7 linked regions of the Homo sapiens genome follow. The protein of the gene in region 4 interacts with the protein of the main gene of each other region in a biochemical or structural test. Each region holds a gene or a part of one and is shown on either strand. Other genes may lie near its edges.

What was found.
Region 1: the proteins of SMAD2 (region 4) and LEF1 form a complex in vitro, tested with the Homo sapiens proteins (one study listed by BioGRID).
Region 2: the proteins of SMAD2 (region 4) and RHOA form a complex in vitro, tested with the Homo sapiens proteins (one study listed by BioGRID).
Region 3: of the proteins of SMAD2 (region 4) and CAMK2G, one has a biochemical effect on the other in vitro, tested with the Homo sapiens proteins (one study listed by BioGRID).
Region 5: the proteins of SMAD2 (region 4) and ELAC2 form a complex in vitro, tested with the Homo sapiens proteins (one study listed by BioGRID).
Region 6: the proteins of SMAD2 (region 4) and MEF2C form a complex in vitro, tested with the Homo sapiens proteins (one study listed by BioGRID).
Region 7: the proteins of SMAD2 (region 4) and INSR form a complex in vitro, tested with the Homo sapiens proteins (one study listed by BioGRID).

Annotation. Positions count from the first base shown.
Region 1 is NC_000004.12:108,078,116-108,082,359, reverse strand, and holds part of LEF1 (lymphoid enhancer-binding factor 1), read left to right. Parts: intron 1-690; coding exon 691-774; intron 775-2,745; coding exon 2,746-2,868; intron 2,869-3,977; coding exon 3,978-4,140; intron 4,141-4,244. UniProt on the Homo sapiens protein: Transcription factor that binds DNA in a sequence-specific manner. Participates in the Wnt signaling pathway. Activates transcription of target genes in the presence of CTNNB1 and EP300.
Region 2 is NC_000003.12:49,369,941-49,374,184, forward strand, and holds part of RHOA (transforming protein RhoA isoform 1 precursor), read right to left. Parts: intron 1-4,244. UniProt on the Homo sapiens protein: Small GTPase which cycles between an active GTP-bound and an inactive GDP-bound state.
Region 3 is NC_000010.11:73,818,775-73,823,018, reverse strand, and holds part of CAMK2G (calcium/calmodulin-dependent protein kinase type II subunit gamma), read left to right. Parts: intron 1-1,288; coding exon 1,289-1,337; intron 1,338-3,373; coding exon 3,374-3,487; intron 3,488-4,123; exon of another isoform or gene 4,124-4,244.
Region 4 is NC_000018.10:47,808,322-47,812,565, reverse strand, and holds the end of SMAD2 (mothers against decapentaplegic homolog 2), read left to right. Parts: 3' UTR 1-3,609; downstream 3,610-4,244. UniProt on the Homo sapiens protein: Receptor-regulated SMAD (R-SMAD) that is an intracellular signal transducer and transcriptional modulator activated by TGF-beta (transforming growth factor) and activin type 1 receptor kinases.
Region 5 is NC_000017.11:13,007,729-13,011,972, forward strand, and holds part of ELAC2 (zinc phosphodiesterase ELAC protein 2), read right to left. Parts: intron 4,055-4,244; coding exon 3,935-4,054; intron 2,944-3,934; coding exon 2,885-2,943; intron 1-2,884. UniProt on the Homo sapiens protein: Zinc phosphodiesterase, which displays mitochondrial tRNA 3'-processing endonuclease activity. Involved in tRNA maturation, by removing a 3'-trailer from precursor tRNA.
Region 6 is NC_000005.10:88,716,308-88,719,619, forward strand, and holds the end of MEF2C (myocyte-specific enhancer factor 2C), read right to left. Parts: 3' UTR 810-3,312; downstream 1-809. UniProt on the Homo sapiens protein: Transcription activator which binds specifically to the MEF2 element present in the regulatory regions of many muscle-specific genes. Controls cardiac morphogenesis and myogenesis, and is also involved in vascular development.
Region 7 is NC_000019.10:7,115,864-7,120,107, forward strand, and holds part of INSR (insulin receptor isoform Long preproprotein), read right to left. Parts: intron 3,721-4,244; coding exon 3,586-3,720; intron 1,548-3,585; coding exon 1,193-1,547; 3' UTR 1-1,192. UniProt on the Homo sapiens protein: Receptor tyrosine kinase which mediates the pleiotropic actions of insulin.

The sequences.
Region 1 (4,244 bases), on a different chromosome or scaffold from region 4:
TTCAAACCTAGATCAATTATTCTGTCTGAACTTAGTGACTTAGGGGCAATAGTCCTGTGCTGAATCGTACCACTGGCAGCTGGAAATAAAGTCTGTGTAAATGAAAAATGAGAGATGTAGAGAGAACAGAGGGAAAAAATGGACTTCTCAGGGTGGAGAGAAAATAATTCCAGTGAATTAATCTTTTATTTCTTGACTTTAACATGTATATGGGGGAAATGGTACAGTGTTTTTAAAATGTTTATTTTTATATGAATATACAGTTTTATTTTCTTCTTTCTTCCCTTGCCTGAAATTCTCAAAGATTCTGATAAAGAAGTCACTCAGCTCCTTCTCTGAAGGGAATATTTCACTATTCTCAGGGTTATGTTATATTCAATAAACATTTAAGTGCTTACTTTGTTCAAAGCATTAATGGGGTTGGGAGAGGGGATGGGATAAAAGAGATGTAATTCATGGATGGTTTGTTTCAAAGTTGAGGGTGGGAGATTTCTTTCAAGGCAAATGACACTTTGATTGGGTGGAGGGTAAGGAAGGGGAACGGTTACGTTTCTGAAACAATCCCGGGGTCTGTAATACTTCCACAAGATTCTGTTTGAATATCTCCCTCTTCTCCCCTCATCCAACTCTTACTACTGGTTGGTAACTGGTGTTTTGTCATTGATGGGTTCCTTTCTTCTGTGACCTCAGGCAAGGTCAGCCTGTATATCCCATCACGGGTGGATTCAGGCAACCCTACCCATCCTCACTGTCAGTCGACACTTCCATGTCCAGGTAGGTGGAGGTGGAAACTGGGGCGCTCGAGGACAAGTTGCTCTTCTCGTGCTTGCATCCTGTGCGCCTCTGCTTGCCTTTTGGTTGGCTAGGAGGGTGCATACCTCAGCCATGTGTCTGTCTGTGCAGTGTGCCTGGCTCCCACACTAGGTGTCAGAGAGAGTCCCGGGTAGGAGCTCTGCGCTGTGCCCCGGCCGGACCAGCCACACCATCGGGCGATGGACTCAGCCTCCTTGGAAAGCGTTGCCTCCAAACAAATTCATGGCCGCCTGACTGTGGGATGGGAACTGTCCGGAAAGCGGACATTACAAGAAGAGTTTGTTTGATTCAAAATATGCCGGGGGTGGGGTAAGGGAGGAGGATAAAACTGGTTTGGTCTCAGCTCTATAATTTGCTTCCTTTGTGGAAAGTTGTATCAGTTTGATGCGGCAGTGTTTGAAAATGCCCAGATAGTCTAGAGCCTTCCTGGATGGAGGCTGTCAGAAGAGACAGAACAGTGCGGACAGGCTGGCAGGCCATACAGGGTGTGCGTCCTAGTGTGTGAATCAGGCCCTGTGTGGACATGGTCATGCCAGCGGAGCTCGGGAGGCCTGCCGCGCCGCACCGAGAAGCTGCTGTGTGTGATGCTTTTGCTTCTGGAGAGGATGGCACTGTGCCCTGTGCTTGATGTACACACACATTTGGGGTGCATCATCTGTGTGTTCGATGTGGCTTTGTCAAGGGAGCTAGCATTATTGTGCCGGAAGTCAAACTGGTGGGTTATTAACTGGTTGTGAATATGTCTTTTTTATATGGGTATAGTATTCAAAGTTTCTGTGGTGAATTACAGCTTTAAAAAAACTTTTTTTTTCAGTGAGTTGTAAATGTAGCTGATTGTGGGAGGAGGTGGAATTAATATCCTTCCCCTTAAAACATATTTTTATACTTTTTAACATTGTAAGAACTATCTGATGATAGAACTCTCACAGGCAAATAACTATCATCATGTATTTTTGCAAGTAATACATTTAGCAAAGCATCATTATTTGGTCAAATATTTGTATTTTTACCATGCTTCCTTCATATTTTAAAATTTGTTTTTGAAAAATATATATCCTAGCAGAGTTCCTTTCAAGAAAAGGAAATTAATTGTGTAGGCTGTGATGAAAGACCTGAGAATGTTGTTCTTGCTGAATTAAATGTTTACTTTAAAAAGTTTGAAAAGCAAAAATTTCTAAAACATATCCAAATTTATCTAGAGAGCTTATTGAAAATACTGTCTTTATTTTATTTTTCTTGCCTGGCAGTTTCCCTCCTTTGTGTTGGCTGGTGGTGGATATTTTAAGATTTTTTTTAATGCTGTTCAAGCGTACTTGGGAAAAAGCCTTTGGCAAGTGTAGTTTTTAACCTTGATGCAGAACTTTATCCTTCCTTTAAATTCTTCTCCTTATTTCTGTTACCAGTTTTCCATAAGATGAGATCTCTGAAACATTAGTGTATTTCTGCACAGAAAATCATTTTGGATGATGTTAATGGAAACCTTATTAAATGGGAGACTGATTCCTATCCGTTTTCTCAGTTGTTCCCTCCTAATATGGATGAGGAAGCCAATAATATGAGAAAATTCCCATTGTGATGGTTTGCTTAGGAATATAGGCAGAGATTTTAAAACATGATGTGTTTTGCTTTCATTTAAAAATCATTTAAAAAGTCAAGTCTTAAATAAAGTGTTATATTTCCAATAATTACTTTTCGTGAAATTCCTATTTCAAAATTGCTTTGCAAGAAAAATGATTCACTTTTTTTTTTCCACCCGAATATAGAAAGAAAAAAATAATTATCGGCCCACTCTAATTTATAGTTAATGCTTCTGTGCGTAAAGATGTGTTTTTACTCTTAGCCAGTAGCAGTTAGTGGATTGCTTTGAAATTCCATCTAGCTTTTGCTGCAACAGCCAGTAGTACATTGTTTTCTTCTCTTTCCTCCTTTCAGGTTTTCCCATCATATGATTCCCGGTCCTCCTGGTCCCCACACAACTGGCATCCCTCATCCAGCTATTGTAACACCTCAGGTCAAACAGGAACATCCCCACACTGACAGTGACCTAATGCACGTGTAAGTATCCACCCGGGCTCTGCTGTGATTGCCTTAGGATACTGAGGATTTCTACACTGTTGCTCCTTTGCAACAGTGATCCTTCACCCCTTTGTGTTGCTGTGAAACTCAATGCACCTCTGCCTTGAAAACTCTGTCCCTGAGGACATTAAGCAGCTTCATTCCTACTGTGCTGATTTTGATTCTGAGGTTGCAAAGGAGCACGGACCCTAAAAGATCATGGGAACCTCACCAAAATGGAAGAATCTTCAGAACATAGGCATTCGAGACTCTTCAGCTGTTTAGCCATTTACCACTGAATTTTCATTTGGTTCAGATTATTGGGGAGAACCTGTTCCTACCTGAGTGAAGTAGATTGGAGGGTTTAATGCACTTTCTTCTGGAAGTGCAGTTACCCTGGCTCCAAGCTTCAACAGCACAGAATTCAAGGGAAAGGAACAAATAAAGCCCAGGATTCCCTGTTGGGCCAGGGTTGTCTCAGACTGTGAGTGCAGGCCTAAATTAATTTACTCTGAAGAGATGAGTAATTAGTTTCTTAATCTAGGTTTTGTGGATGGGAGGGTGGGGGTGAGAGGCAGCATGTGATGGTCCATAAAGCCCTTGCGAATGTATGCAAAGGCAACATGCATTTGTTTGGGGGAAAAGGTCTAAAGATTTATTAGCTTCTCAAAGTGCTCCTTAACCCCCTGCAAAAGTTAAGAACCTCTATTCTGAAAGAGGAATGATCACCTGTGCTGTGTGTTCAGCTTCTTCTGAGGGGACCAGAGAAGTCCTCAGCCTCAGAGCCCATCTGGAGCATCTTCACAATGCCAAGTCCATTTCTACTTGGTGTTCATAGTTCTATAATGACAGGTCCACTTTCTCAAACCAAAGGGTTTTATTCTCAGTCACTGAGTAGATAGGAAGCCCTATTGGATGGGTTGTTTGCCTCTCAGTGTTTTGTCAAATGAGTCAATAACTGCTCTTCCAAGTTGGTGGTGGTCTGGGGTGAGAGGGTTGTCGCCATCCTGAGTGTAGCCATGTGAGCAGGTGCTCTGCTTTTCTCCTCCCCCATCCCTTCCTCATTCCTTCAACCCCTTCCCCTAACCACCACCACCACCACCTTTTAGGAAGCCTCAGCATGAACAGAGAAAGGAGCAGGAGCCAAAAAGACCTCACATTAAGAAGCCTCTGAATGCTTTTATGTTATACATGAAAGAAATGAGAGCGAATGTCGTTGCTGAGTGTACTCTAAAAGAAAGTGCAGCTATCAACCAGATTCTTGGCAGAAGGGTAAGTAGCCGAGTCATGTGTAAATGTTCATGGTAGCCATGGAACTGCTTCATGAAAATCTGCCCCAATTTAATCCCATATCAGGTGGTCATAGAATGTGTTTG
Region 2 (4,244 bases), on a different chromosome or scaffold from region 4:
CCTGTAATCCCAGCTACTCAGGAGGCTGAGGCAGGAGAATCGCTTGAACCCAGGAGGCGGAGGTTGCAATGAGTGGAGGTTGCAATGAGCTGAGATTGCACCACTGCACTCCAGCCTGGCCAACAAGAGCGAAACTCCATTTAAAAAAAAAAAAAAATTAGCTGACTGTGGTGGTGCACGCCTGTAGTCCCAGCTACTTGGGAGACTGAGGTGGGAGGACTGCTTGAGCCCGGGAGGCGGAGGTTGCAGTAAGCAGAGATTGTGCCACTGCACTGCAGCCTAGGCAGTGAGACCTTGACTCAATTAGGAAAAAAACAAAAAAACAAAACAGATACTAGAACTGAACCAAGTGGCATAATTCAAAATGTCAAGTCAAAAATAACTCTGTAGCTTATAAAAGTGTTTAATTATAAATAACATTCTACTAGGAAAGAAAGCAGACAGGAGGGAAGAAATCAAATTTTAAATAACATCCTACCAGGCATACAGGCGAGAGAGGAAGATACAAGACTAAGTAAATTTTCTGCTATAATGTGGAAACCATGGAAACAAATCTGTATTTTGAGTTGGTAGGTAGGAAAAGACACCATGCTGGCTGTTAGGCAAGGCCTGAGATGACAGGAAAGCCCTTTTGGCTGTGCCTTTACTACTCAAGAAATGTCTGAAATAATGCATCACGTAAGGTGAGAGAGTACTCCTTTCACATCCGGGTACATCCTCACCCTCCTGTGGTAGAAGGGTAAACTGATGCCTGGGCTCTGAATACAAGTCCCATTCAACACTGCCCAGCACTGCACCCAGCTCTGCTACCCCATTCTTATCACCAGACTCCATGTTAAACATCCTCTGTACAGAGGCCCTTTGAGGCCCAAGAGGTCTCCCTCCAATACTTGGAACACATCTTTCTTCTCTTAGCACCTTCACAGCCCAAATTTCAGTTTCTAAATGATTTCTTCCTTAAAATTGATGGCTCTTCCACCCCCGAACTTTTGCCCCAGGATGCATCACAAATAACCTCCACAAGGCCCACTGTACTTCTGTCATGCAAACCATCATTCTGGCATGTGTAACTAAGATATACTGATGCCCAATTATCACAATCTGTCTGCCCTCACAATAATGGAGCTCATTTACTCCCTGGCAAATCCCACTCTCCCGGCCCCCTCCACCCCACGGTGTTTAGTCATATATCCAGCCTCTATTGGCGCTTGATAAAATGCTTCCAAGATGTTGAGTCTGTCTCATATCAAAAGGGGCCTTTTCATTGTGAGCAGGCCTACTCTTGGTACCATGATCACCTACAATCTTGTATGGTTCCCTAGGCTGTACTATTGCCTACTGTTTTTTTTTTTTTTTGAGACAGAGTTTCGCCCTTGTCGCCCAGGCTTGAGTGCAGTGGCGCAGTCTCAGTTCACTGCAACCTCTGCCTCCCAGGTTCAAGTGATTCTCCTGCCTCAGCCTCCCAAGTAGCTGGGATTACAAGTGCCTGCCACCACGCCCAGCTAATTTTTTGTATTTTTAGTAGAGATTGGGTTTTGCCATGTTGGGCAGGCTGGTCTCAAACTCCTGACCTCTGGTGATCCTCCTGCCTCAGCCTCCCAAAGTGCTGGATTACAGGTGTGAGCTACGACGTCTGGCCTTATACTATTGCATACTGTTAAATGAATATTCCTACACAGTACCCTCTCCCATCTTGGGGACTCTTGAGTTGCTCTGAGGCAGGCAGGTAGCCTGTAATATGCTCTTCAATCAAACACTTTTATTCCAGGGGACTCTCCTCAAGTGAGAACCTCCCCCTATCTTGCGAGGGTCAGTGATGTCCAAGGTTTGCAGCACAAGAAAAATACTCACAGACCATGCCTCAAGGTTTTAAGTCAAGGTCTCTAAATTTCTTATGGGCAAGATTCTGGTTGTTCCAAGATGCCCAGGCAGAAATAATGTTTCCAAGAGAACCAAAGAGCTGCTTCCAAAACATACATACTGCCACAGATGGAAAAGACCCTTCCAGTTCATGCTTACAGACATGCAGCAATTAACAGCCACTCTCTGGAGAAAATGTTAGGATACAACCAGTAATATACATTCACTACTAGGCTTTTGAGAAATAAGCTATGAAAATGCCAACCTGACATTGCTTCCCCAAGCCAATGGATCTTTCTATGTATGGTGCATCAATCTAAGTTAGGTAAGAGGGCTATAACTTGACACCAATCCTGAAGATGTCATCACATTTCTACCTAGTTTGTCACAACTGGGCCCTGTGTCCATATAAAACCAGTTTTCCTATCAGGACCACAAAAACACCTATGTCCAAGCATCCATGCTTGGCTGAGGCTGAATTAACACCCTCTGTATTGGTTTGCCACCTTCAGGGTACATCCCAAAATTCTGTTAGGCTGGTATTTGTTGTATTTTTTCCATCTATACTTGGGCCAGAAAGTATCTTAGAGTTCCTATTAGCATAAGAGCAATCATCGTGGCTCACTCTGTATTTGAATAAAAAAGAGCACAAACTATAGGACGGGCGCAGTGGCTCACGCCTGTAATCCCAGCACTTTGGGAGGCAGGCAGATCACGAGGTCAGGAGATCCAGACCATCCTGGCTAACACGGTGAAACCCTGTCTCTACTAAAAATACAAAAAACTAGCCAGGCGTGGTGGCGGGCGCCTGTAGTCCCGGCTACTCCGGAGGATGAGGCAGGAGAATGGCGTGAACCCAGGAGGCAGAGGTTGCAGTTAGCAGAGATCACGCCACTGCACTCCAGCCTGGGCGACAGAGCGAGACTCTGTCTCAAAAAAAAAAAAAAAAAAAAGGACTACAAACTATGAAAGAGGGTTTTGAACATGGCAGTATTCATCTCTTAGAAAGCGCTTTGGTGCTGCCAAACATTTTCCGTTACTTCACAGAACCTTGATGTCACCTATAAAAACCGTTTTACAAATGAGGAAGGCTCAAAGGTCAGGAGCTTACTGATGGTCAAACAACTATCAGGAAGCCCTACAATGAGGGACCCTGGAGTTCTGAGCAGCTGATCTAACCCACATTCCTCACACAGTGCCACAAAAGGAGGCTAGGTGGCCCTAGGACAGAAAGAAATAAGTAATGTGGACAAGTAGAAGTGGCCAGGCACGGTGGCTCATGCATGTAATCCCAGCACTTTGGGAGGCCAAGGCGGGCGGATCACCTGACGTCAAAAGTTCGAGACCAGCCTGGCCAACATGGCGAAACCTCGTCTCTACTAAAAATACAAAGATTAGCTGGGCTTGGTGGCAGGCACCTGTAATCCCAGCTCCTCGGGAGGCTGAGATAGGAGAATTGCTTGAACTCAGGAGGCGGAGGTTGTTGTAAACCAAGATCATGCCATTGCACTCCAACCTGGGTGATAGAGGGAGACTCTGTCTCTAGACAAACAAACAAAAACAAAGTAAGAAAGGAGAAAGGGGATGAATGGAAGCTAATATATCAAGTGTTAGCAGCATATGAGACATATAACTGAATGCTCAAGAAAAATGAGAATGTTGGAGAAGAGCACCTCATTCTAGTTTTAGGGGTTTTTTCCTTTCAGCTGACCCACTTCAAAAGATGTATAGGAGAGCTGGGCACGCTGGCTTGCGCCTGTAAGCCCAGCCACTTGGGGCTGAGATGGAAGAACTTGAGCCCAGTTGTTTGAAACCAGCTGGACCAACACAAGACCTCATCTCTAAAAACATAAATTACCCAGGTGTGGTGGCACATACCTACAGTGCCAGCTATTTGGGAGGCTGAGGTGGAAGGATCACTTGAGCCCAAGAGTTCAAGGCTGCATGATCATGTCACAGCACTGCAGGCCTGGGAGACAAAGTACAATCCCTGTCTCTTTATTTAAGAGAAAAAAAAAAAAGTATGAGAGGCCAAGCAAAGCATTACTTAGACAACAAAAGGAAGCAGAAGATTAAAAAAAAAAACAAAAACAAACCAAAACCAAAATTAAAACCCAAAAAAACCCTCCAATTTCACAAGAGCTTTGTTCCAGTCTTGCCAGAGGGCTTTTAGGACAGAAATGGGGAAGCACTGTTCTCACCATCAATGACAATAAAATAAAACAACTGTGGCAGGCTATTTTATGTTAAAGTAAAAAAAAATCTTTTGGCCGGGCACAGTGGCTCATGCCTGTAATCCCAGCACTTTGGGAGGCCGAGACGGGCAGATCACAAGATCAGGAGATCGAGACCATCCTGGCTAACACGGTGAAACCCCGTCTCTA
Region 3 (4,244 bases), on a different chromosome or scaffold from region 4:
ATGGTGGCACATGCCTGTAATCCCAGCTACCTGGGAGGCTGAGGCAGGAGAATCGCTTGAACCTGGGAGGCGGAGGTTGCAGTGAGCTGAAATCGTGCCACTGCACTTCAGCCTGGGCGACAGAGCAAGACTCCATCTAAAAAATGAAAAACAGAAAAACCTCACCAAACTAGACAGAGAGAACAGGGCCTTGAATTAAGTAGTCAGGAGAGGGCTTCTTTCAGGAGGTGATATCTGAGCTAGAAACTGAATGGTGGGTGGGAAGGAGGCAGCCAGGCCAGCTCTGAGGCTGAGTGCCCTAAGCAGAAGGAACTGAAGCTCAGATGTGGCCTTTGTAATCAAGCAGAGGGAAGAGCAAAGTGAGACGGGGAGAACCATAGGAGAGTGATGAGGTTGGAGAAGCAGCAGGGCCTGCTACAGAGGCCCTTGTAGGAGTTTGCATTTTCTTCCAGCAGCAAGGAGAAGCTATTGGGAGTTCTTAGCAGGAGTAACAGAATCTAGTTGACACTTTAAAACACCACTCTGGCCTCATGATCAAGAACTCTAGGGAGGCCCGGGCGTGGTGGCTCACGCCCGTAATCCCTGCACTTTGGAAGGCCGAGGCGAGTGGATCAGCAAAGGTCAGGAGCTCGAGACCAGCCTGGCCAACATGATGAAACCCCATCTCTAATAAAAATACAAAAATTAGCCAGGCATGGTGGCAGGCACCTGTAATCCCAGCTACTCAGGAGGCTGAGACAGGAGAATCACTTGAACCCGGGAGGCAGAGGTTGCAGTGAGCCGAGATCATGCCATTGCACTCCAGCCTGTGCAACAAGAGCAAAACTCTGTTTCAAAAAAGAAAAACTCTAGGGAGGAGGTAAGTGTGGAAGTTAGGGAGACCATGAAGCTGTTATCATGGTTCAGGTGTGAGATGCTGGTGGCCTGGAGTCAGGTTGTAGCTGTGCATTGGAAGTGAAGAGGTAAGACATGGGGTTTACTTTGGAGGCAGAACCAGAAGATTTTATTTTAGATTGGGCGATCTGAATATAAGGGAAAAAGAGAAAGAGAAGGATTGAGGATGACTCCAGGTTTTAGCCTGAGTAACTGGGTAGATGGTGGCATTTACCAACTGGGGGAAGACTAGGGAGGGGATTTGGGAAGAGTCAGACAGCCAGGGTGGAAGCAGAACCTTCCACAATTCCTCCTTGCACCTCTTGTAGGAGCAGAAACTCTGCTTTTGTTCTGCTTTGCTCCTCTGGCTTCCAAGGGATGGAGCATATAGAAACATGTTCTTTTTGGCCTACAGGGCTCCACAGAGAGCTGCAACACCACCACAGAAGATGAGGACCTCAAAGGTAGGTGCTGGCCCTTGGAGGGGGAAGGACTCCAGCAGTGACCCAGGTACCTGGGCTCCAATGGGGCACCTGCCTTTTCTGTCCCCAGAACTGGGAATGCTGGCTCCTATGCCCCTAGGAGAGGGCTTGGTATAAAAGCTACTTTCCACGAGCCAAGATATGAGGCCCCTGTCTGGTGTTGCTGAGTTGGGCAAGAGGCTTCTCTTCTTTGACCCCAAGTCTAAAATAGCTAAGCTAGAGATTCTCCAGGGGCCAGGGCTCAGAGAACTGTTCCTGTTGCTGATAATGATGTGCCATCCAAGAACAGGGGTACCCCAAGTCCCTGCCGAAGTAGCCTGTAAGTGCTATGAGTCATAAATAGAGTGACCAATCACTCCTGGTTTTCCTCGGACACAGAACTTTTGGTTTTAAGACTGTGATGGGCCAGGAGTGCTGGCTCACACCTGTAATACCCAGAACTTTGGGAGGGCCAGGGCAGAAGGATTGCTTGAGACCAGGAGTTTGAGACAAGCTTGGGCAACATAGCAAGACCTTGTCTCTATTAAAAAAAAAAAATTAGGAACAAATAAATAGGCCAGGTGCGGTGACTCACACCTGTAATCCCCACACTTTGGGAGGCCGAGGCAAGTGGATCACTTGAGGTCAGGAGTTCAAAACCAGCCTGGCCAACATGATGAAACCCCGTCTCTACTAAAAATACAAAAAAAGGCCGGGCGTAGTGGCTCACGCCTGTAATCCCAACACTTTGGGAGGCCAAGGTGGGTGGATCACCTGAAGGTCAGAAGTTCAAGACCAGCCTGGCCAACATGGTGAAACTCCATCTCTACTAAAAATATAAAAAATTAGCCAGGTGTGGTGGCAGGTGCCTGTAATCGTAGCTACTCGGGAGGCGGAGGTGGGAGAATCGCTTGAACCTGGGAGGTGGAGGTTGCAGTGAGCCGAGATCACCCCATTGCACTCCAGCCTGGGCAACAAGAGCGAAACTTCTTCTCAAAAAAAAAAAAAAAAAAAAAAAAAATTAGCCGGGTGTGGTGGCGGGGTCCTGTAATCCCAGCTACTCGGGAGACTGAGGCATGAAAATGGCTTGAACCCGGGAGGTGGAGGTTGCAGTGAGCTGAGATTGCACCACTGCACTCCAGCCTGGGTGACAGAGCGAGACTCTGTCTCAAGAAAAAAAAAAAAAAAAAAATATATATATATATATATATATATATATAAATATAAAACCCAGATAGTCCTGGGAACACTGGGATGAGTTGGTCACTCTAGTCCTAAGATTTTGGCCTGAATGATGGAGTTGGAACTAATCTGACAACCGTGAGGCCACATTTGGTCATGTCCTGGTGGGCCCGTAAGGACCACTAGCCTAAGCTTGGGCCTGGCTAGAGTGCCAGGGCGGTGGGAGGGCATGGCAGGCTGGACCCCCGGGAATCTCTGTCCTGCTCTTTGATTGGGCCTCCTGGAATTGCTCCCTTTGCCTGAATTCAGTAAGTGACCTTGGGCCAGGACATCAGAAAAGACAGAGGAACACTCTAGGACAGAGCTGGGAGAGCATGCCCTGGGTGGCAAGGGGGCACCAAACCTTTTGGAACCAAAAAAAATAGCAGAAAGCTGCGAGGAAGTGAATCATAGTAGCTCCAGGCCCCTGTGAGTGAGGTCAGATCAGTTTTGATTCCGGCACTGCTGGCAACATAGGAGGCGCTGTCACTGCTGGGCTCTGGACCCTGTGGCCTGGCCCCCTGGAACATCTTCCCCGGGATCAGGGGTCCTTGGACAGGCTGTTGTAAGGCTCGTCTGGAAGCCACAGCCCAGGTCTGGGCACCTGCCTGGTGCCCTCAGCTGGGAGGCCTCTCTGGCAGAGGCGGCGGCGTGGGATGTCGTCCAGTGTCCACAGCAGCCTGAGGCGAGGCGTCCCCTTGCCCCGGCTCTGCAGCGCCATGGGCTCGGGGCCTGTCTGGCTTGCTCGCTCACCTGCCTTGTTCTGTTTGTTTTGGCTGCTCTGCCTTGCCCTGCCCTGCCCTGCCCTGGCTGGCTAGCTGCCCCGCTCCGCACTGGGAATGGCAGCTCGGTGCCTGAAGGACGGAGCTCCCGGGACAGAACAGCCCCCTCTGCAGGCATGCAGCCCCAGCCTTCTCTCTGCTCCTCAGCCAGTAAGTGTGAGGGAGGCACATTCTGGCTTCCGTCTCCCTGGCTCGTCCTGAAGCCCCTCAGGGACCCCCACCACAGCTGTCAGTCCCACCCACCTGCCCGTGGTAGTAAGCTCTGGGAGCATGGCCTCTGCTGGGGGTGGGGGGTAGACTGGAGGTGCTGTTGAGACCAGGCAGGGGCCCCTGAGTCTGGGGCCCAAAGAAATATGAGAAGTGTGGGTGGAAAAACATGGCCTGGGATGAGGGGAGTAGAAAGCCCCCAGGATGTGCAGTGGGCCTTGCCTCAGCGCTGAGCCAGGAAGAAGGGCAGAGTCGGAAGTCAGGTCTGTGGGGGTGGGAGTGGGATGATGGGGAAATCGTGACAGCGAGGAACTGTGTTGGGGATGTAGTGCTTCCTGAGTCTCAGCATAACAGTATTAAGAGCATGGGGTCAGAGGCAAGATAGATCTGAGTTTAAATCCCAGCTACACTGCCTTCAAGAGTGTGAAGTTTAACCTCCCAGAGCTGCAGGTTCCTTATCTGTAATGTGGAAATAAAATGGCACGCACCTCAGAGCCTTGTTAGATAAAAGACAAGGCAGTAGGAAGTCTTGATACGGTGCCTCGATGGGTTATCAGTAGCTCATCCTCATATTTCTAGTTACGTCTGTGCTGGAGGATGCCTTTGTCTGCTGCTTTTCCTCCCACCATCTATCCTTGCAGAGTTTCTAAGCACAACCCTCTTCGCCCGTGGGGCCCCAGTCAGGTCATCCAGATGGGTC
Region 4 (4,244 bases):
ACAGGATCTGATGGTTTTATAAATGGTAGTTTTTCCTGTACTTTCACACACTCACACTCTCTTCTGCCACCTTGTGAAGAAGGTGCCTGCTTCCCCTTCTGCCATAATTGTAAGTTTCCTGAGGCCTCCCCAGCTGTATTAGTCTGATCTCACGCGGCTAATAAAGAGATACCGGAGACTGGGTAATTTATAAAAGAGGTTTAATTGACTCACAGTTTTACATGGCTGGGGAGGCCTCACAATTATGGCAGAAGGTGAAGGGGGAGCAAGACACATCTTACATGGCATCAGGCGAGAGAGCTTGTGTAGGGGAACTCCCCTTTATAAAACCATCAGATCTCGTGAGACTTATTCACTATTACAAGAGCAGCACGGGAAAGACCCACCCCCATGATTCAGTTACCTCTCACTGGGTCCCTCACATAATATGGGGAATTATGGGAGCTCCAATTCAAGATGAGATTTGGGTGGGGACACAGCCAAACTATATCACCAGCCATGTGGAACTGTTGAGTCAATTAAACCTCTTTCCTTTATAAATTACCCAGTCTCAGGTATTTCTTTATAGCAGTGTGAGAACAGACTAATACAAGCACCTTGAGGTCAGAGGCTAAAATCACTTTTTCCCAAACATTTCCTTTTTATATATGCTACATCTTTGTGTCTGCTTCAACATTTCCAGCAGTGCTTTATATATGGTAGGCATGCAATAAATGCTTCTTGATCGACTGACAGGTGCTCAGAAGATCTAGGTTGGTTGATTCTCTTGTGATGCCATCTTTTCCTGAGAGCTCATTAATTTTTAAGTTGTTTTCCTTGAAATGCATGGTATGTTTCCTCCACCCTGCTCTTTGCCTTTCATAGGGTTCCATTTTGATCAGCTGCTCTCATTGTCTGTTTTGTGATCAAAGGTTCTGATGAACTTTGGAATATGTGTATGTTTGGAGTGAGGATGGGGTCTGGAGGAGATGCATGGTTGAGGACCAATTCACCCAACCCAGCTTACAGAAGTAAAGCGGCCCCTTAGGAGCACTGAAGCATTGCTGTGGATTTCAGAATTACCTTATTTCTTTTTCTTTTTTTTTTTTTTTTTTTTGAGACGAGGTCTCGCTCTGTCGCCCAGGCTGGAGTGCAGTGGCACAATCTCAGCTCACTGCAAGCTCCGCCTCCTGGGTTCACACCATTCTCCTCCCTCAGCCTCCCCAGCAGCTGGGACTATAGGTGCACGCCGCCACGCCTGGCTAATTTTTGTATTTTTAGTGGAGACAGGGTTTCACCGTGTTAGCCAGGATGGTCTCAATCTCCTGACCTTGTGATCCACCCGCCTCAGCCTCCCAAAGTGCTGGGATTACAGGCGTGAGCCACCGTGCCCAGCCAGCTTCTTTCAAATCAGAGTAGGCCTTCCAGTGTGGCAGGCCATAAGATCTGAAGTTTTCACCCTGTTCCTGGAAGCCAAGTGGACAGCAACTAATTTTTACTTTCTTTATTGCACATTTGGGGCTTGGGGGATAGAGTCAGATGTGTGTCAGTTGAAACTGTAGCTACTGCATTCCACTCCTTGGGGGATCGTAGTGCTCATGCCAACAGAAAACTTCGAGGCTAATAATTACTGTCTTCAGAGTACAAGACAGGCACGGAAGTTGTTTTGGCATAAGAAAACCACGATTTGCATCCCACAGTCTAAGGAAGACGATGCTGAATTCAGAAGATGGTGCAAAAGTGTGACAGTTCAGCTGTGGCGGCTGTTGCTGATGCATGGGACTATTTTATTTACATTTCCTTTCTTCTTTTTTAACAGAGACAGGATCTTGCTGTGTTGCCCAGCCTGGTCTTAAACTCCTGGGCCCAAGTGATCCTCCCACCTCAGCCTCCCAACGTGTTGGGATTACAGGCATGAGCCACCATGCCTGGGCTTTATTTATATTTCCAAGTCAAATGTTAGTTGGTCAATCAGTCTTTTTAAGCACCAATTTTGTGCCTAGCCTTGTGGAAACTGTAGGAAAAAGATACTTTTTATTTGGGAGGACCTTGATTTGCTGTCACAGGTGCCACTAATGCCAATTATAAGGCAGTGTGGAATCAGGTGATTGAAAGCCCAGTCTGTAGCATAAACTGCTGCAGGGTTCCAGTGGGGGCAATTAAGGTGGGCAGGGAGGGTGGATAGCATTTGACTTTGACAGCATAACCTGAGCAGAGGCACAGTGGGGATGGTGAGTGTGCAGTGGGAGGAGGGAGAGAGGTAAGTGGTAGGGAAGAGGTGGGAAGGGGGCAAGGAGAAGGCTCAGGAGGTTTGGGGACAGGGAAATGACTTGGTTGGCGACCTCTTACTTTCTTCTCGTGTGTGCAATTTGGAATTCACTTGGTTCTTAGTATTTCTGGGTCAGATGACTTCTTTGCAGTATGAGAAACCATTTCCCAGGCTGGCTACCTGGGCTGTGGTATCTTCCAGTGCTCCTCTGTGATTGTACTCAGATCAGCTCGTCTAGGCAGGCAGGATGGCAGAAGCCCTCTGACTTCATGTCTGAAAGAGTATGTGTTTCAACTCTGTAATTACAGCATTTAACAGACGATATCAGCCCTCTTTGGGATGGCTTTTGGCAAATGGGCTAGAAGTCTATTGTGCATTTAAATGATACTGCATCTTCTCTTTAAAAGGTTTCTCAGTGAGTCCACCCCACTCTGTATCCAAGTATGTCTCAGGCCATGAGGCAAAAGGAAATGAGTAGTTCTTTTTGGTTGGAGAATTAAAAAGAAATCTCCACCCAAGTAACAGGTACATAGTGGGAAAAAATAACATCTGCCTGAAAGCTTCATCTTCAGGCAAAGAGAGGGTCAGGGGGCGGGAGCTTAGTAATGGGGAAACCTCAGAAGATTTAAAGAGAATTACAGACAGACAAGGCTGAACATTGGCTGTCATCCAACAAAGCTCTTATAAGATGGGAATCACTGCCCGGTTCTTGAGCTCCGACCTGGAGGGAAGAGGAGTCTGGAAGACTTGGCACAGGCCTGAGTGCTTCATTGTCTTTCTGGTTCCAAGTCCTCCTCAGCTCACTAGGAAGGAGGTGGGGTGGGGGCAGGTAGGCCACTCTGCATAAGTGCACACATCTACACTGGCTAGTCTACTTCACAATTCCCCCACAGGTTATCCTTATCTCTACCTGGTTCCAGTTCCAGATTGGAGGGATATAGAATACCATCCCCACCCCTCACCTTGCTTGCTCTGGCCTGGAAAACTGTCATTCCTTTACCACCAGCTGGCATCTGCCATATGCTTCAAGGAACTGAATAAAGAGGAAGGGGAAAGAAGAAACTAGAGAAACTGGAATGCTTCCTATCTGACCCCCAAGTACAGGGACTGCCTCTTTCCGTAACGGCACAGAACGTCTCCATCCCTTTGACCTCCACCTCCCCAGAGATGCCCGAGGAGGACAGCCTTGTTTCTGTGATCTGTTGTTGAGAACTGCTGCTGAGAATTCTTCCTTCAGCACCGCCTTAGGCACCATTGGTTTTTCACTAGGTCCGCTGTAGAAAACAGCCAGGAATTACTTAGTTGACTACCACCTGAGGTGCTGTTTGGTGTTGGTAATAAAGAATAAAGGTGGAAATGAAGCAACGAGACTGCTTTTCTTTGTGGTTCATAAATTAATTCTGATAACAGTTTTTAAAAGAGAAGTCAAATATTTTGAGCAGAGCCAAGCTCACTGACATACCTAGGTGGTCTTAGATGTAGCCAATGCGCCAGGTACCACAGGACGCCTAAATTTGTATCAGTGTATACCATCACTAGTTATGAATAAGAATGCCTTCTTGCCACATATCCTCATTAACTCAGTGTATTATCAAACTTATTTAACTCTTTCAGGCCAGGCATTGTGGCCCATGCCTGTAATCCTAGCACTTTGGGAGGCCAAGGCTGGTGGATTTCTTGGGCCCAGGTGTTTGAGACCTGCCAGGGCAACACAGGAGTTTGAGATCAGTCTGAGCAACATGGTGAAACCCCACCTCTACAAAAAATACAAAAATTAGCTAGGCATGGTGGCGTGTACCTGTGGTCCCAGCTACTCAGGAGGCTAGATGGAAGGATCACTTGAGCCTGAAAGACAGAGGTTGCAGTGAGCTGAGATCACACCACTGCACTCCAGCCTGGGGGGAAAAATATTTCAGTCTGAGAGGTGAAAAATGGTAAGAGAATTTGATCTTTTCAAAAGGTAATCATGTTTCTCCCATGCTCAAGACCTTCACTG
Region 5 (4,244 bases), on a different chromosome or scaffold from region 4:
TTAGCCAAGTGTGGTGGCGGGCACCTGAAGTCCCAGCTACTCGGGAAGCTGATGCATGAGAATCACTTGAGCCTGGGAGGAGGAGGTTGCAGTGAGCTAAGATTGCGCCACCGCACTCCAGCCTGGGCAACACAGAAAGACTCCGTCTCAAAAATAAATAAATAAATAAAATAAATAAAAGGTAATTGAAGGCTGGGCATGGTGGTTCACTCCTGTAACCCCAGCACTTTAGGAGGCTGAGGAAGGCAGATCACTTGAGGTCAGGAGTTCGAGACTAGCCTGGCCAACATGGCGAAACCCTGTGTCTACTAACAATACAAAAATTAGCCGGGCATGGTGGCAGGCACCTGTGATCCCAGCTACACGGGAGGCTGAGGCAAGGAATCACTTGAACCTGGAAGGCAGAGGTTGCAGTAAGTCGAGATGGCAACACTGCACTCCAGCCTGGGCAACAGAGCGAGACTCCATCTCAGAAAAACAAAACAAACAAAGAAACATAAAGGCTGGTCATGATGGCTCACGCCTGTAATCCCAGCACTTTGGGAGGCCAAGGCAGGCGGATCAGGAAATCAAGAGATCCAGACCATCCTGGCCAACATGGTGAAACCCCGTCTCTACTAAAAAAATACAAAAATTAGCTGGGCATGGTGGTGCGCTCCTGTAGTCCCAGCTACTCGGGAGGCTGAGGCAGGAGAACTGCTTGACCCTGGGAGGCAGAGGTTGCAGTGAGCCAAGATCGCACCACTGCACTCCAGCCTGGTGACAGAGCGAGACTCTGTCTCAAAAAAAGAAAAAAAAAGGTACTTGCCGACTTAAGGCAGGGAAACCCATCTCCCTGGGAGCTGAACTCAACCCATGGAGATATGTTCCTCTCTGAGGAATGCAGAGTATCTGGAAGACTGATGAGAGCCAGAACGCAGCCAATAACGCCCCAACAGTGCACCAGCTGCCCAAAGCCGAGGTCTTCCAACAGATGAGTTTTTCAGGTCCTCATGCCAAGAGACTCCTGGAACTTGACCTAGCTCAGCTTTATTGCTTTCCAAAACCTCACCTGAGAGCAGCAAATTAATTAGAAGAGGGGAAAGGCGTTATAGGCTAATCCAGTGACAGCAGCCCTCAGAAGGAGCCGCAGAAGACAGCAAGGAAGGAGATGGAAAAGCCAGGGCAGGCAGCTGGCAGCCCCCAGGAACGGCTGCCTGATAATAGGGCAACTGCCCGAGTGTGTAAAAGTGAGCTTGTCACTTTTCATCATGCTCACTGTTACCTATTCCGGAAAGCAGGAATACGATTTAAAGATTACCATAGAAAACAGTTTAAAAATCAGACAATATAAATATAGATTATCAAAAATAAAATATTTTTAAAACTTTAAAAAATGATTTTGCTATCTAAAACTCAGAAACATACAAGTAATAAGCCTGTTAACAGTAGTACTTAACTTTTATGAAAATCACATTATTCAAATAAATCGATAGAAATGATACTGGCAATGATCTTGCCACTAATATTAACTACTTACTTTCATTATTATTTTCACTTGTAGCTTTTAGAATTTAGATAACAATTCCAAATATATTTCAAAATCAACATTAAAAAATAATCTAAGCCCACAAAAAGGCAATGAAATCTTTTCACATATTTAGACAAATTTGTTGCAAATTGTATTGATAAAATTTTAATGCAAAATTCTATTAAAAATAAGCCACTAGTCAGATCTTACAAACAGCTTATTGTAACAAAAATTTTTAATGGAATTTGACCAATTTCAGAGTTACAGATCTAGGCCTTTGTGAATGCTAGCTAATATTCCAATTAATCTGGTGTTAGACCTTAGCTATTGCAGGGGAATGAAATAAAGTAAAACAGAGTTAAAAGACTTTGAATAAAGGCCTGATGGAGTTGAAGGAAAACAAACACAGCTGCCTTCAATAATTTCTGAATTCTAAAAGGACCAATCATTGGCAAATATAAAAGAATATGGACCAGGCACAGTGCTTCACGCCTGTAATCCCAGCATTTTGGGAGGCCAAGGTGGGTGGATCACCTGAGGTCAGGAGTGAAACCAGCCTGGCCAACATGGTGAAACCCCATCTCTACTAAAAATACAAAAATTAACTGGGTGTGGTGGCGCGCACCTATAATCCTAGCTACTTGGGAGGCTGAGGCAGGAGAATCACTTGAACCTGGGAGGTGGAGGCTGCAGTGAGCCGAGATTGTGCCACTGCACACTCCAGCCTAGGCGATGGAGACAGACATGGTCTCAAAAAAAAAAAAAAAAAATGTACGGAGGCTGACAGGGCACTGGAAAAAAATTTAAAAGGAAATAAAAGTATGGGGTTATTTTGAGAAACAGAGCATCTAAACTCTGAAACCTACAAGTGATGACAATTATGAAAGGTCAGTAGTAATACTTGTTGCAGGCTCATTGCCAGTGTCATTTCTATCGAATTTTTTTTTTCTTTGAGAGAGTCTTGCTCTGTCACCCAGGCTGGAGTGCAATGGTGCAATCTCAACTCACTGCAACCTCCGCCTCCTGTGTTCAAGCGATTCTCTTGCCTTGGCCTCTCAAGTAGCTGGGATTACAGGCATGCGCCACCACACCCAGCTAATTTTTGTATTTTTAGTACAGACAGGGTTTCACCACGTTGGTCAGGCTGTTCTCAAACTCCTGACCTCGTGATCCACCTGCCTTGGACTCCCAAAGTGCTGGGATTACAGGCGTGAGCCACTGCACCCGGCCTTCCATCAGCTTTTCTGAAGATCTGCTATCTCTTCTTGTCTCAGGTAACAGGAGTGCCTACCCTCAAATTAATGAAAAAGTGCAAACCAGAGGTCGCTGACCAAGACCCCAGTCATGTACAGCCCTCCGGAAAGTCTTCCTTACCTTACAGATGAAAGCTACGACCAGGGAAGAGTCCCTGACCCCTCTTCTCTGGCTAACACCTGAGGAAAAACACACTTGATTATCACAAGGTAAATGTGAAAGCTGTGAAGACATCACAGACTGATTATGACCCGATACCTAATTTCACTTCACATAAAAATTAATGGACGCTACTGTCCCAATACAAAGGCTGAAGACACTAATATACTCAAGAAGACTTTTTTTCCCTACTTATGTGGAGATGTGTTTGCGTAAATGAAAAACACAAAACTCTCACCAGAAAAACTTTAGAATGGCAAGTGAAATTTTTTTTAAATGACACATTTCACCTAGGACTGGAGAAGACAGAGAAAAATATATTGTAATGTGCTTTATAACACATATAATATATGAAATAACACAAAAGTTCAAAGGCCTGCAGAGAAAATGCTGGTGTCAGTCTTTACCCGGTGCCATCCAAACAAGGACAGCACATAGGGGTCAGCCTGTTCTCAGTCACTAGACAAGACCTCAGGACAGAAAGAGGAGCTGCCGAGCTTTGCCAACGCTGACCTTCTGTTAAGGACAACAAACTCCCGAAGCGGCCTGACTCCTGAGCTACATCTCATCTTGGACTTTTAACTCCGTTTCCCAGTGGGCTGTCATTCTGGAAGACGTGCAGAGCCTCTCACTGATTTGACTGTCTCATTGGCTTAGCAGTTATAGTTTCCACATTAATGGAAAATTTGCATAAATGTTACATTAATGAAAAATACAAAATGAATCCGTTTGTCAGGCCCTGTTCTCCTCTGGGAAAACAGAACACAGTTTTGGGCCTACCCAGACCCTGGGTGGCCAAAACTGTGGACTGGTCATTATTAAAGTTGCAGGCTGCCACCTTTACAACAACCCTTCTCATTCCCCCAACGGGCCAAGTTATAGTAAGCCCAGGAAGAAGGATCTGTTTACACACCTGGCTTTCTTACAATAATGACTCTCTACAAGCATTACAAGGCAGAGAATTAAGAAAACGCAAGCCTTTCTGCTGCTCTGTTTTGTTTATACTATTACCATGTGGAAGGTGTGGCTCATTTTCATTCGACTCGGAGTCTGAAGATCGCTCTGGACTGAGCCTGCTGAGAGGCCTTTCTGGACTCTGCCATGGTTGGTGCTTTCCCCTCCTCTGTTCACCTGGTCAGTACAGATACCACCAAATTACACACTGCACAAGGTGAGCTGACAGCCAAGGCCCAGACGTTCATACATGGGAATGCCAGAACGCCAATTAAATCAGCACACCTTTTACTATACAGTAGGAAATAACTAGTTAGTTAACTTCCTACCTGGTTTCTGGGCTGCACCTATGTCCTATTAATGTTTA
Region 6 (3,312 bases), on a different chromosome or scaffold from region 4:
CAAAATGGAAAAAGGGTTTTCTCAAATCACAAGATGAAAATTCAGATGCTCTGTTCTGAATAGGGTTCCCTTGCCAAATTCAGTATCTCTATTTAATCCAGACTTTCAAACATAATTGAAAGAAAAAAAAAACACCCACACATCCAAATCAGGCCAGCATTAACTGAATCCTGAGTTTAAGTCCTTATTTACAACTTTCTCATATTCTAACTCAACATACTGAAAACTGAAGTGACTACCTTCCTCACAAAGCAGTGACCTCTCAATTTCCAGTTTGGACATTACTAGGATCCTAATCATTTAAGCCTAAAACTGTAAACTTTAACAATTCCTTATCTATCACCACTCCTACCATTAATCTAACCATTTACTGAATTCTGACAATTTTCTCTCTCCTAAATCTTTCAATTACTTGCTTAAACCTAACTCTTTTAAATTTGCGATTATATAATCAGAGGCAAACTAACTCTTCCAGTCTTGTCTCACTGCTCCCCTACACACGGCTACACTTTACGTAAATAGAAAGGCCCACAATTCCTGTAAGTTTGTCTCTTGCTTTCCCATCTCTGTACCTTTGTATCTACTATTTCTTCCCTGTGAAATGCCCACATCCAGGGATGGTGTCATGATTCCAGGGCCCAGTGCAGAATGAAAATGTGGAAGTCCTTGTTGAAAAAGTGAAATAAAAGGTTCTCTCTGTTAAAGGTACTAAAATATAAAACAGTTCACTTTTTCCTGTGTATCTCTTCTGTTCAGGCACATGCTCTATTGTCCTACAGGACTTTGCTTACAACATTCAAACTCAAATATAAAATTATTAAGGATAATTTTATTATCAGGATATTATCAGGATAATGATAGCAGAACACTAAACGAAACACAAGCTAGGGCCATATGTGACTGCAGGGGTCACATGCCCACAAACAGCTTTGAACTCATCCCCTTCTGGGCCTTTCTCAATCCTGCCCACCTTCAAAATCAAGTGAAAGGCTTCTGCTGGGTGGATGAGGAAGTGTCCATGCTCTGAGCCTCTGGTCTGCTCTGCCCCAGGATGGCCAAAGTGGCTCCCTCATAGCACTTTGTAGACTTCCCTGAGAATGCCTTTTATCTCCTATTAGTTTATAAGTTTCCTAAGAGAAAGGGCTACAACTTCATTCATCCTGGAATCACCACATGAGTTACATATAATAATTGCTTAATACATGTTTGCTGAAAATGAATACAAGAGAACAAAGCAGAAAGCACTGCTATTTTGAAGCCACATGCAACATTTCCTCGAACTGCATTCTTTTTGGAGCAGATATCACTACTAATGCAAAAGTCCAAGTTCTCCAGCTGGCTAACTGGTGGTGTCTTGTTTTCCTTTTCAGTTTTTAAATTAATCTTTCTATCAATCTTTTTAAGGACATTCCCCTTTAGAGATTATTATTGAATGTTAATAATGGATATATTTGATAGTCTCTAAAATGTATGAATTCACTAATTTATTCAGATTTATAAGCCTATGTTTTCAACTTTTAGAAATTACTTCGAAGAAGAAAAAAGGAACTCTTTTGGAAACACTTTCTACAGATTTTAGTTAAAAAATAACTTATGGTACTGCTTTTCACAGTGGCTTTTGAAAAATTCTGTACATTTAAACAGGTTATCAAAGATCTTCATGGAACTTCTTTGATAAAGAAGTTGAACCATTCAATAAGAACCTTAGACTTCCACCACTGGCTGAATTCTGTAATACCCTAAGAACCGTCATCCAATTCACACCCCTCCCACACAGACACACATATCCATCTTTTCATATAATATTTTGAGTTGAAAACTGAGAAAGCTCATTTGTGCTTGTGGCATAAGCTGCTTTTTAAAAAACACAATAAAATTGAATAAATTTAAACAGCAAAACATTAATTTAAAAAAATGCACCACGGACACTGCATCACTAAGAAAGCCAGTAACTTTACTGAATTGTCTGCAAAATACAAATTATACCTTATTTCCAGCAGGAGAAACTTTTGAAAATTTCCCACTTTTATTCACTACAGACAGCTGAATTAAGTCCCTTGAGATACACAGATGTGGTTTAACTTAGTTATAACATCTTGTCATCTAGTGGCGACAAAGTCCAGCTTATGCCGCTGTGAGCCTCTATTTGAATATTTGTTGCAAATGCTTGTATGCCCTCATTTACAAGCGATTTTAATTACTCTCATTTAATGGAAACAAGTCCCCAGGAAAAGAAAAAGAAGAAAAATGATACAGCAAACCATCTGAAGCAATCCAAGTCCTATGCCTACAGTGACCCAGGTCTACTTTGCTCGAAGAGAACACTGGTACTGCATTCAAACCACAACAGAATCCGTCACTTAACTGACCTCTCTGAATTAAACTGAGGTATGAATCAATTTGAGGTATGAACAGGGAAGGCAAAATGCAATACCAGATTATGAAAATAACCAAAATGGAAAAATTTGATGTAGAAGATATGTGGCTTGGATTGCTCCACATCTTTGGTTAAAACATATTAAGAAAAGCCTTTAATTACATCTGTAGTCTGAAGCATTCTAACAGACACCAGTATTCCAGCAATCTTCAAAAGATCTGTAGTGGCAGGAAATTAACGCCATAAAAGTGACGACATCACGGCAGATGGCACAAATGAGAACAGATGAAGTATGCCATGCTTAGGCAACAGCCTTTATTGAGGGTTCAAGTGGCTTCTTCTTCTTTAAAAAAAATGTTTTTTAAAGAAAGAACTACAAAGCGTTTACTCTCTGGAGAAACAAACAACAAAATAAAGAGGGCAAAAAATGCTATCTCTAAGTTAAAAGATGGGTATGTAAGAAAAACAAATCCATAAAAGTGTGTGAGGGCAGACATTCTTTTAAAAAGTGTCTTGGAATTTTGTTTTTTCATTCTCACTTTAGTTAACTTTTAAATGATCTGGGGATGACAGGTATTTTTATATTCATCATTACAAAATGCTAAATTCCACCTTTGGGAAAAAATAAGCCATTTTACTAAAAAACACAATTTTTAAAAAGGTTGAAATAAACAGCCTCCACGCAGCAATGCATACAATATACAGGTTGTGCAGCTTGCGTATATTGCATCACTGTTACCAGTATTCAAGCTTCATATTACCAAAAATCTTTTAAAATAGGATTAGATATAACAATACTCGCAGCCGTGTAAAATGCCACTTATGGATCTTTTACTTGCAATGAAGAATGTTGCCTAAAATGTTACTCTAGGACGGGTTATGTAAAATAATACTCCCTCAGGGCTCTGCCCTAAAGTCTGGAATACAAAGGATTT
Region 7 (4,244 bases), on a different chromosome or scaffold from region 4:
CATGGCTTCATTCCCAGAAATGGATGCCTTTAAGACCAAACAAAGAGGCCACTTGTGCCTGACTCCCTCCCCTTCCCGGCCCCACAACAGGCAGACCAACTCATGTCCCCACTCCCCGCCAACCCCGGGGAATAGTCAATAACTTATGAGGCTAATACCAGAGACTTTAAAAATTAAATATGGTACAAATATATTCTCAAAACTCTGTCATCTCAGTTCTTTTTTTTTTTCCTTTTTCCATTTTGTTTTTTCTTTCTTTTTCTTTTTTTTTTTTTAATGTCCTAGCTTGGTTTGGTCTTGAAAAGATTCATAATCACTCCAAATGAAATGCTCCTCCCTTGGCCACCAATGTGAAGGGAGGGTAGAAACCTGAGGCTAGACTTCTGACACAAGAAGAATCTGTCGAGAGCACAGTCTCCCAGTCAATAAGAAGGAAGGAGAGAGGGGGATGAGCTCGCACCCTTGAGAAGAACCTTCATGAGCCAATTCCCAAAGCATCAACTCCGCATGGATACTTTGCACACACATCAGCCGTGTCTAATGGACACACACACGTGCATACACACGTGAGCACACGCCGGGACCACAGACCCTTATCCAAAATATGAAAGCAGCAGCTATTGGTCAATTTGAGGAACTCATTTTGTAAAGAAAAAAAAAATCCTTCAGCCTGGATGAGAGAAAAAAAAAAAACCAAAAAAACCATCTTGAAGCTCAACCTGTAAAACTTGAAATTCTCCTGGAACAGGGCTGGGTGTTTTTGTTTTGTTTTTTCTTTCGAACTTTTGTTCCACAAACAGGAAGTTTTGTCTTTTATACTGAAGCTCAGACACCAGCAAAAAAAAAAAAAAAAAAAAAGAATTTGTAAAAACAGGTGCTTTCTTTCCATCTGCTGGGGGCGGGTGGGGGGAACGAAAAAACACAAAATCCTGGTTTGAAACCGTCGTTGCCCCAAAGGAGCAGCAACTGTGGAAACCCCTTGCCCTCCAGGTTCACAGTTAAATCCTCTGCAGGACTAGTTAAATTGGTAACCAAACGAGTCCACCTTAAGATGAACAGAAATGTATAGGAACGATCTCTGAACTCCATTGGACATGGTAGAGTCGTGAGAATCCTGAGTTTTCCAGAGGCTTTCAAACCAGAGGAAAGCGAAAATGGGAACCCCTGCCCGCCCCCGCCACGGTAGGCACTGTTAGGAAGGATTGGACCGAGGCAAGGTCAGAATCCGCCCGTTTTTCTTGCCTCCGTTCATGTGTGTGTAAGGGATGTGTTCCTCGTAGCTCCGCTTGAAACCCAGCGAGGACCCTCCATCCCGGCCCCCCGCCTCCTCCCTCTGACAGTGCGAGGAACGGTCCAGGGGCACATTCTCCATGTCCTCAAACTCCATCTCCAGCTCCTCACTCTCGGGAGCCTTGTTCTCCTCGCTGTGGAAGAACGACACCTCTGGAAAGCTGGGGTGCAGGTCGTCCTTGAGCAGGTTGACAATCTCCAGGAAGGTTGGCCTCATCTTGGGGTTGAATTGCCAGCACATGCGCATGAGGTCAGTGCTGCGGGGCAGAAGGACACGTCCTGGGTGAGTCTGGGGGCCCTGCCACGCATCCTCCCAAACCCCCACTCTTGTCCCTGCAGCCGACACCCACGGACCACATGTGCTCACATCAGATGCTGGCTGTGTGTGTGGACAATTGTCAAGGCAGAAATAGCATTGCTAGAGGTGCTGAGAGATGGTGTTTTCTTTTTGCTTTTCTTCTTCTTATTTTGGACACAGCGTCTCATTCTGTCACCCAGGCTGGAGTGCAGTGGCATGATCATAGCTCACTGCAGCCTCTGCCTCCTAGGCTCGAGCAATCCTCTCACCTTGGCCTCCCAAGTAGCTGGGACCACAGGTGTGCACCACCATGCCTAGCTAATTTTTGTATTTTTTGCAGAGACAGGGTTTTGCTATGTTGCCCAGGCTGGCCTCAAACTCCTAGGCTCAAATGATCCACCCACCTTGGCCTCCCAAGGTGCTGGGATTACAGGTGTTAGCCACCATGCCTGGCCGCTTTTTTTTTTTTTTGAGACAGGGTTTCTCACTTTGTCACCCAGGATGGAGTGCAGTGGCGCAATCATAGCTCATTGCAGCCTTGAACTCCTGGGCTCAAGCCATCCTCCTGCCTCAACCTCCCAAAGTGCTGAGGTTCCAGGCATGAGCCATCCTGTCCAGCCTGAAAGATGGTTTTGAAAAGGGATTCCTCATTTCAAAACTGGCTCAAGAGTAATCCCAGCACTTTGGGAGGTTGAGCCAGGAGGCTGAGTCCAGGAGTTCAAGGTTGCAGTGAGCTGTGATTGTGCCACTGCGCTCTACCAGCCTGGGTGACACAGCGAGACTTCATCTAAATATATATATATGTACATATGCATATATATTTGGAGGGGGGAATATATAATATGTATGCCTGACAAAATTTTTGTGTGTCTGTGTTTGTTTTTGAGACAGAATCTCACTCTGTCACCCATGCTGCAGTGCAATGGTGCAGTCTCTGCTCACTGCAACCTCTGCCTCCCCGATTCAAGCAATTCTCCTGCCTCAGCCTCCTGAGTAGCTGGGATTACAGGCGCCCACGACCGCGCCTGGGTAATTTTTATATTTTTAATAGAGGCGGGGTTTCACCATGTTGGCCAGGCTGGTCTTGAACTCCTGACCTTAGGTGATCGTTCACCTCGGTCTCCCAAATTGCTTGGGATTACAGGCGTGAGCCACCCATGCCCAGCTACCTGACAAAATTTTAAGTGTATAAAGAATTAACAGGCGGCTGTAATCCCAGCACTTTGGGAAGCCAAGGTGGGTGGATCACGAGGTCAGGAGATCGAGACCACGGTGAAACCCCATTTCTACTAAAAATACAAAAAAAAAAAAAAATTAGCCAGGCGCGGTGGTGGGTGCCTGTAGTCCTAGCTACTCGGGAGGCTGAGGCAAGAGAATGGTGTGAACCCGGGAGGCGGAGCTTGAAGTCAGCCGAGCTCGCACCACTGCACTCCAGCCTGGGTGACAGAGCAAGATTCCGTCTCAAAAAAAAAAAAAAAAAAAAAAAAATTAACAGGCAAACAGGTCTCTCTCCCCCAACCCCAGGTCTCCAGTTCCCTTCTCCCAAGATAACTACCGCTATAGGTGTTTTGTGCAACCTTCCAAAGATACAATATGCAAGAAAATCATATGATTTGTGAACACAAGCAGGCAGGTAAAGACATAATATGTAAACATGTGTGCTTATAATATGTAAATGAGGTGTACATGTGCCATGATATGCTGATGCACACAGAAACATATAATATGCAAACATAAATACCTATGTAAATATATAATATGCAAACGTAAGCGTACATGTAGCACATATGGGAACTCAAGTGTGTGTACCACAATGCAATATGCAAATGCAAGCATGCATGTAAAGACAAGCTATGCAAACACAAACACACCTGTAACATACAGCATGCAAACACGGTGAGCGTGTAGACATAGGAAAGGCAAAACCAAGCACACGTGTAAAGGGCAATACCCTTTCAACGAACACCTCACACACCTTAAACCCTTTCTACACTTACACTCTCTCTGGACAGTTGTCGGGTTGATCCAGATACCCTCCATCCATGACAAATTTCAACACCTGTTCATTAGACAGGCCTTGGTAAGGCTGTTCTGCCAAGCTGGTGATTTCCCAAAGGACCACGCCAAAGGACCTGCCGATGACAGTTGATAGTAGTAACAAAGAAGCCATTTAGACACACACACACACGCGCGCGCGCAAACACACACACGCAAACGCACACACACACGCAAACACACATGCCAACACATACATGCAAACACACACATGCAAACACACACGCACATACACGTGCACACACATGCAAATACACACAAACACGCATGCGCACACATGCACACACAAATATGCAAACACACAAACACATATACACACACAAACACACACACCCAAACACACACACGCACACACATGCAAACACACACAAACACACATATGCACACACATACACACACAAACACACACACAAACACATCTCTTGGTTTCTAGAACATGGTTAGCCACTTAATAAAACAATTCATGCTGCAGTTCATAAATGCTGTGAAAGGAAAATCAATTTGGGGCTCCCAAATCACTAAACTCAAGGAAAAAGTCCAGCTAGGAACTGCTTGGACAAACCTGCTTCCCATTCTATTCAGAGTCCCCACTCTGCTCACT